2 linked regions of the Homo sapiens genome follow. The protein of the gene in region 1 purifies or fractionates together with the protein of each later gene. This does not show direct contact. Each region holds a gene or a part of one and is shown in the gene's direction. Other genes may lie near its edges.

Region 1 (3,500 bases):
GCAACTCAGGCCGGGCACGGTGACTCACGCCTGTAATCCCAGCACTTTGGGAGGCTGAGATGGGAGGATTGCTTGAGGCCAGGAGCTCAAGACGAGCATGGTCAACATAGGGAGACCCCATCTCTAAAAATTTTTTTTAAAACACAAGCAAGCTAACAATTTTAAAACTCAAAAGAGAAATAGCTAGGCCTCAGTGTTCCTAGCCAGCCCCATGGAATCAAGAGAGTGCAGCTGATCAATGTACATCAAAAAGCCAGGCCCTACCTGGGACTGGCACAGCATGGGGACAGCATGCAGGAGGTGCATGGGACAAATGGCACCTGGGTTTGGGCTTGAGAGGCATAGTGAAAAGACCCACTAGCAGTCACTTTCCATTTTCTGTTTCTGACTCCAAGCAAGCAGAGCAGCAGTTCTTCTTCCTGGGTGGGACAGGTTAAGAAGACCAGTAAAGGGTCTCTCCCTCGCCACTTGTAGCTACACTATCTTTCCTGTTCACATTCAGGTGTGTCTTCCTCATGAGGACTGAGATGAAGAGGGGTCAGACTAAAGCACTGTTTGCACGGGATTTTTTTAAATAGAATTTGTTATAGCGATATCAGTAAAGCAAGAGTTATGCCAAATGCTCATAGTAGGAGTTTACTTCGACCTCTTTTTTTTTCCCCACTCAATACTGCCACCAGTTAAGACTTAGACTTCTCAGGGAAATCCATTTGCTCTGTTAAGGAAATTAATAGTAAATAGAAATATGTTAGCTTATTTTAATAGATCAATGTTAGTGTCAAGGTTTGTCTGCAAGCAGTGAATGAATAATTATAAATAGCTTTCCTAAAAAGAATTGTTCTGCCTTTGTGTGTGTACTTGGAAACATAAAGTCACATTTTAAAAAAATTTATTTTCACGAAACAGACAACATTTTTTTTCTCAGAAAGGAAAATGAGATGATAGCTTTGCTATGCTTAGAAATCCTAAAGCTACCTTTCTGGTGGGAATATAAATTGGTTAACCTCTAAGGAGGCAGTCTGGCAGTATATAATTGCAAGTGCATATACCTTTTGATCATTAATAAAATTTGTTTCTATAATTTCATTTCCTTAGAGAAAAGGTAAGATAAGAGGGAAACAGCAAAGACTCCCAAGTCTTTGGGATTATTGTGTACTACATTTGGAAATTAAGTTTTCATTTCTTAAGTAAGTTATTGAAAGAGGGAAGTCCTGGCCGGGCACGGTGGCTCACGCCTGTAATCCCAGCATTTTGAGAAGCCGAAGCGGGCAGATCACGATGCCAAGAGATCGAGACCATCCTGGCCGACATGGTGAAACCCCATCTCTACTAAAAATACAAAAAATTAGTTGGGCGTGGTGGCTCCCGCCTGTAGTCCCAGCTACTTGAGAGGCTGAGGCAAGAGAATCACTTGAACCTGGGAGGCAGAGGTTGCAGTGAGCTGAGATCGCGCCACTGCACTCCAGCCTGGCAACAGAGCAAGACTCTGTCTCAAAAAAAAAGAGTGAAGTCCTAAATCAGTGGGTTAATCCATCTGTTCTTCCAGGACAGATGATATTGAATAATGAAATGTTTGTCAAGCAGAGAGAGGACTGAGGATAATTCAGTCAAAACAAACATTTGGAGCAAAAATTTTGAGGTGTGAAAGAGCCTGGCCTGTTCCCCAGGAAAGAGGTCAAATCTGGCTAAAGCAGTGAGTCCAGGGGAAGAGCTAAGGCAGTTGAGAAGTAGGAGGGGTAGCTTTGTGTGACAGGTAAAGAAGATGTCATTTTCTGAGCCAGTGTGCATCAAACTTCACTACCAGATGAATGCAGAATAGAATTATGTACACTCTGCAAAGCAGCGGGGGAGGAGAGTTAGTCTCAAGCCTCACTTGTTTTTCCACTTCTTTGTTTTATCTTTGACCTGTGCAAATTTTACATTCTATTCCTGAGTGAATGTTTGGTATGACATGAAAGAGATATTTCAAATTACCTAACATTTTATAAATGCAATGCTATTCATACATACTGCTTTGAACCCTGGGGCTATGGCTGTAGGCGGTAAAGAGCCTGTGAAGTATTTTCAGCAAGGAAAGTCATGTCATTATATTGCCGTACTACAGACGGGTGGAGTGAAGGGGAAAAACTGGAAGGAGGGAACAGCTTTTGCCAGGAGCTCAATACAACTTACCTCAGTGACCTGTGGATGGGTAGACAATGAGGAAATAGAAGCCCACAAGGACTGCACTGCTAGTACCTTATGAAGGCAGGAATTTACTCCTGGACTTTCTGACCTTAAGGCCTGTACTCTGTCCATATGCTTCCCTGCCTCCAGGAGGCAGAACCAGAAGGCTCTTGCCATAATCCAGGTAAGAAGTAAAGAGGACCCGACCAGGGCAGAGGTGAGAGGAGAGGCAAGGAGAGAACATTCTAGAGAGATGAAAGAGAATTGAGTGACTTCCCAGATATAGTAGGGAGAAGGAAAAACAAGGAAAATTCCAGGTCCGTGGCTTGGATGACTGGATGGATGATGTTCATCATTAACCGACTTAGGATACTTCAGAGGAAGAGCAGGTTTAAGGTGGAGATGGGAAAAGAATGGTGTAGATCCTCTGATTGCATAAGAAAACAAGACAGCAGAAGCAAAGGCATGGCTTGTAATGCCCAAGATAGACATTATGGGTGGGCCTCAGAGCCCCCGAAGACTGCATTGTAGCAGCCAAAACAGCAAAGAGCTCATCAGGGCTTGGGGACTGTCTTTTAGGTTTGTTTGAAGAGACTGTACCAGAGGGCCAGGGAGGAGGAGAAAGGAATTGAGCTGGCCTATCTAGAGCAGCTGCATGGCCAACACGAAGCCTGGCTTATTCACAAGACAACGAAGTAAGTGGGGAGAAAAGAATGTATCAGAGACAGAGACCTGGCTCCCAACAGCCAGTTGTTAAAAACAAGTTCAGCATGCAGCCCCCTGTAGGAAGGTTCAGAATATACTGGAAATGGTTGGAAATGTCAAGCATTTTCCAACTCAGAAGTTTAATATTGCTGGACACCGTGGCTCACGCCTGTAATCCCAGCACTTTGGGAGGCTGAGGCAGTCACCTGAGGTCAGGATTCAAGACCAGCCTGGCCAACATGGTGAAACCCTGTCTCTACTAAAAATAGAAAAATTAGCCAGGTGTGGTGTCAGGCGCCTGTAATACCAGCTACTCGGGAGGCTGAGGCAGGAGAATCGCTTGAACCTGGGAGGCAAAGATTGCGGTGAGCCGAGATCGCACCACTGTACTCCAGCCTGGGCGACAGAGTGAGATGCCCAGAAGAAGTTTAATATTGAATATAATCTTTACATTCCAAGGGCCTTTTTATTAGATTGTATTTCTCCAGCTTTTTCTTTGTTTCTTAACATTTCCCTAGACTGAACATTGTGATTGATGGTGATAGTTGGCTCAGCATGAAGGGCTGAAAATGTTAGAGAAATTGTCAGTATTACTAAGTTGGCATTCCTGGTTTCTGCCTGTCCTCCCT
Region 2 (3,500 bases), about 56 Mb from region 1:
TATGCAGAGCCATGGAAGTGTGGAAGCATGCAATCCTGGAATCTATAATAGTTTATAATCACTGACACATGAGAAAAGACAGATTGGCAGAAAACGAGGATATAAGTAGGCAGGACCTGAGCCACGCTAAGGAGATGAGGTTGCATCATGGAGACTAAGGAGAAGTACAGAGGCTTTTAGAGAGTAGATCAATGAGGTTTGTATTCTGGAAATTCACTCAGGCAGCTGTGCAGAAGGAGAGTGGTTGGAGTCAGGTAGCCCAGTGGGGAGGCCAATCTTTAATCAAGGCAAGATCTGATGAGGCCTATGAGGGCAGTGGCAATGCCATTCTGAGCCAGGCCAGAACCTGACTTTCTGTGTGATTCAACCATTGCCCAACACACCTGAGTGATGGTGCAGACCCATACAAGAAGCATGAAGTTATGCACTTGAGTCTCCAAACTGTGATTCACAGTCCTGACAATATTTCCTGTGTGTGTAAGAGACCACCCTCTCCAAAGTCAACTGGAACAGTTTAAGACATCACAAGTGACCCATGGAGAAGCCAAGCTTCCTTGCCTAACAAAGAAGCTGATACGTTGTTGAACTTCTAAAGGCACTTGGGGGAGGTGGTTTTTAATACAAAGTCACTTCTGAGCTTGTGGTTTGGTAAATTTAAGTCTTTTCCAAACAAGGCAGCCAGGCTGGCAAAGTGATCCTTTTTCATCCCCTCTAGGCACTGATTCAGTTCTCTGAAGCCTCCCTGCTTTCGCTCTTCCTGTTCCTTCTCCTGAAATGTCTTTCATCCACCAGTCTATGATTGGACATTGGAGTCCTATAGATCCAGGTTCAAATTCTAGCTCCGCCATGCATTAATTGTATGCTCTTATACAAGTTACCATAAGCGTTCTGAGCCCCAGGGAGCTCCCCTAATCCTGATTGCTCGGTGATTGCTGAGCAGGAGATGAAATTTGTGAGGTGTTCCATTAAGTGCCTTCTCCATCGCCAGCACTCAATATTAAATAGCTATTTTTCTTAGGTGAGATTCTAGTTTAAGAATGAAGGTTTGTAATTCTCTACCAAAAAACCAAAGTAAAGTACTGAAAGGTTTCACAATAATACATCTTTTGATTTTCAGGATAACCATGAATTAGAGTTTTCTTACTCACATTAATTAAACCTGACACCTGAGTACCCACTTGATTTCCACACCCAGCTGTGGAATTCCACAGTAACTTATAATTAATAGACAGTTGCTTATAAGAGATTTGGAACTTGAATTCAGAGCAAAAATAAGTAGAGAAGCCCCATGACAAAGGGAAGAGTTGCTGATACTGGGCCCTTTTCTCATGCTGACGAGTTTGGAGGGTAAATGGCCATCTTAATGGTATCATCTGACTGCATTTTGTGCTGCCGAGATTGTGCTGAGTGGAAATTTCCCTGGAAGTAGCAAGAGTGGCTTAGTTTCATTACAGTGAAAGAATTGGCCAATGTTGGGGCAGGTTACTGACAATGGGTGTGGAATCTGTTTTAGGAGAAGTTAAAAAATCATGACAATAAAGTATGTGATGAGATTACCCCTTCCAGGCTATTGCAAGTGTAGACATGCCTGCAGCTTGAAAGAGAGTTTGTCTCAAGCACAGTGAAGGACTAGGTTCACTTGGTTAATTCTTCAACCCTAACTCAGTATCTTTTAACTGAATTTGAAAGATCATCTGGCACTTTCCAGATTCTGGAAATTTTCCAATTTTCAAGTTTAACTTGACTTTTTAAATCAATCTGGGGTTAATTTATGTGTTAATTCTTTTATTATTATTATTAGCAATAGTCTTATTATTATTTATTATAAAGCAACTTTAAAGGGAAAATTTTAAAATTATCTTTAATTTTCCTGCAGTTATTTTAATTTTGGAATTTTTTTTGGCCTTTGTTTACCTACTTACTTGTTAATCAGCCATCACAATGAATCTGAAAGAGCTTCATTATTATGTCTGCTTTATTAATGAATAAGTTGAAGATAATGCAGTTAATTAACGTTGCCCTAAGTAACACATGTAGTAATTGGCCAAATCAGGAAGAAAAATCAGGAATTATCTCAAGCCTGCTCTGTCTCCCTACTCCCTGCTGTGATGTTGGCCACACAACCTGGTGCTTAATGGATATAGGTAACATTATCTTATGCACTATTACTTTAACTCAAAATCAGAAATAATAGCAGTCTGGAATAATATCAACAAAAACTCCCCAACCAATCCCTAGAAGAAAACCATTAAGATTTTGTCAACTCTGAAGACAATGTTGTACGAACTTTCTAATTATGAGAGGAGAAATAGAGAATTAGTGTGACTAATAGAAATAGCTGTTTTTATTGGGGAAAAAAGCTCCAACTTGAACCAGACCAACTGAGACTCCTTAATATTGCTGATTGGATATTCCAAGCCACTTACTGATCATTTAGTTATAAAGTCTTCTCATTGTTCTTGTCAGTAATCCCACTGAGTATCCCATTAAACTAAATGTAGAGTTAAACACCTGGGAGGCAAGTGTTAATAAAGTGTAATTTGTAGAAGGAAAAGAAAAACAACTTCTATATGCTTACTATGAATAGCATAAAAAGGGATGGTTGCCTTCCATTTGGGAGTCAACACCATATGAAAGATGACACAATGAGGTAAAGAGTGAATGCTACAGCCCTTGGAACTGTCAGAAGAGTCTATTTCACTCATATATTTTTCTAGAATACCAAGTAGAAGGAGGCAGACTTGGGAAGATATGCATCAGCCACACTGGAGGGAGTTCCGACCATGGGACTGCTCAGAACTCTAGCTTGGCTCCTAACCAAGTTTGAAATGATCACAGCCACAGCGCTAATTGAATTAATTTGCTTTTCTTCAGGCAGGATGGGGAAGCAGAATAGCAAACTGGCCCCTGAAGTGATGGAGGACCTGGTGAAGAGCACAGAGTTTAATGAGCATGAACTCAAGCAGTGGTACAAAGGATTTCTCAAGGACTGTCCAAGTGGGAGGCTAAATCTCGAGGAATTTCAGCAGCTCTATGTGAAGGTAAGTTGTTTTTCAACCTTGTTTTTATTCCTTAGGCCAGAAACTATGGCCTTCATGAAATTGTACCCTCACATGGAATTATAACTCTAAGTAGCTAGTTTGTTTCAACTCTGGCTGTTTTCCATCCAGAAAGAAAAATTAACATTTAAAAATGCAAATGTATATATGTTGTTCCCAAAATAAGCAATTTCTGAACAAAAAGAGTAATTGTTAAATCAAAGCACTGAATAGAGCTCAAGGAATGACAGCATCTGGTGAAAGAACCATAAAAAGCTCAGAGAAGAGTGTTTGCTGATAATTATTGACAGTTTGCTAATTACAGCATTATTTGGCCTGTTAAAGGTATATGTACTTCTCCCAGTTAAAGAAAAAGTACACAAGAGGGCTTTTTCTCTCTCTCTCTCTTTTTTTTTTTTTTTTTTTTTTTTTTTTTTTTTTTTTTTACCAGAAAAGATACTC

What was found.
Region 2: the proteins of DGUOK (region 1) and VSNL1 purify together in Homo sapiens (affinity purification with mass spectrometry; 3 studies listed by BioGRID and IntAct, with this or other methods). This does not show direct contact.

Annotation. Positions count from the first base shown.
Region 1 is NC_000002.12:73,954,380-73,957,879, forward strand, and holds part of DGUOK (deoxyguanosine kinase, mitochondrial isoform a precursor), read left to right. Parts: intron 1-2,745; coding exon 2,746-2,861; intron 2,862-3,500.
Region 2 is NC_000002.12:17,589,196-17,592,695, forward strand, and holds part of VSNL1 (visinin-like protein 1), read left to right. Parts: intron 1-2,874; 5' UTR 2,875-2,879; coding exon 2,880-3,041; intron 3,042-3,500.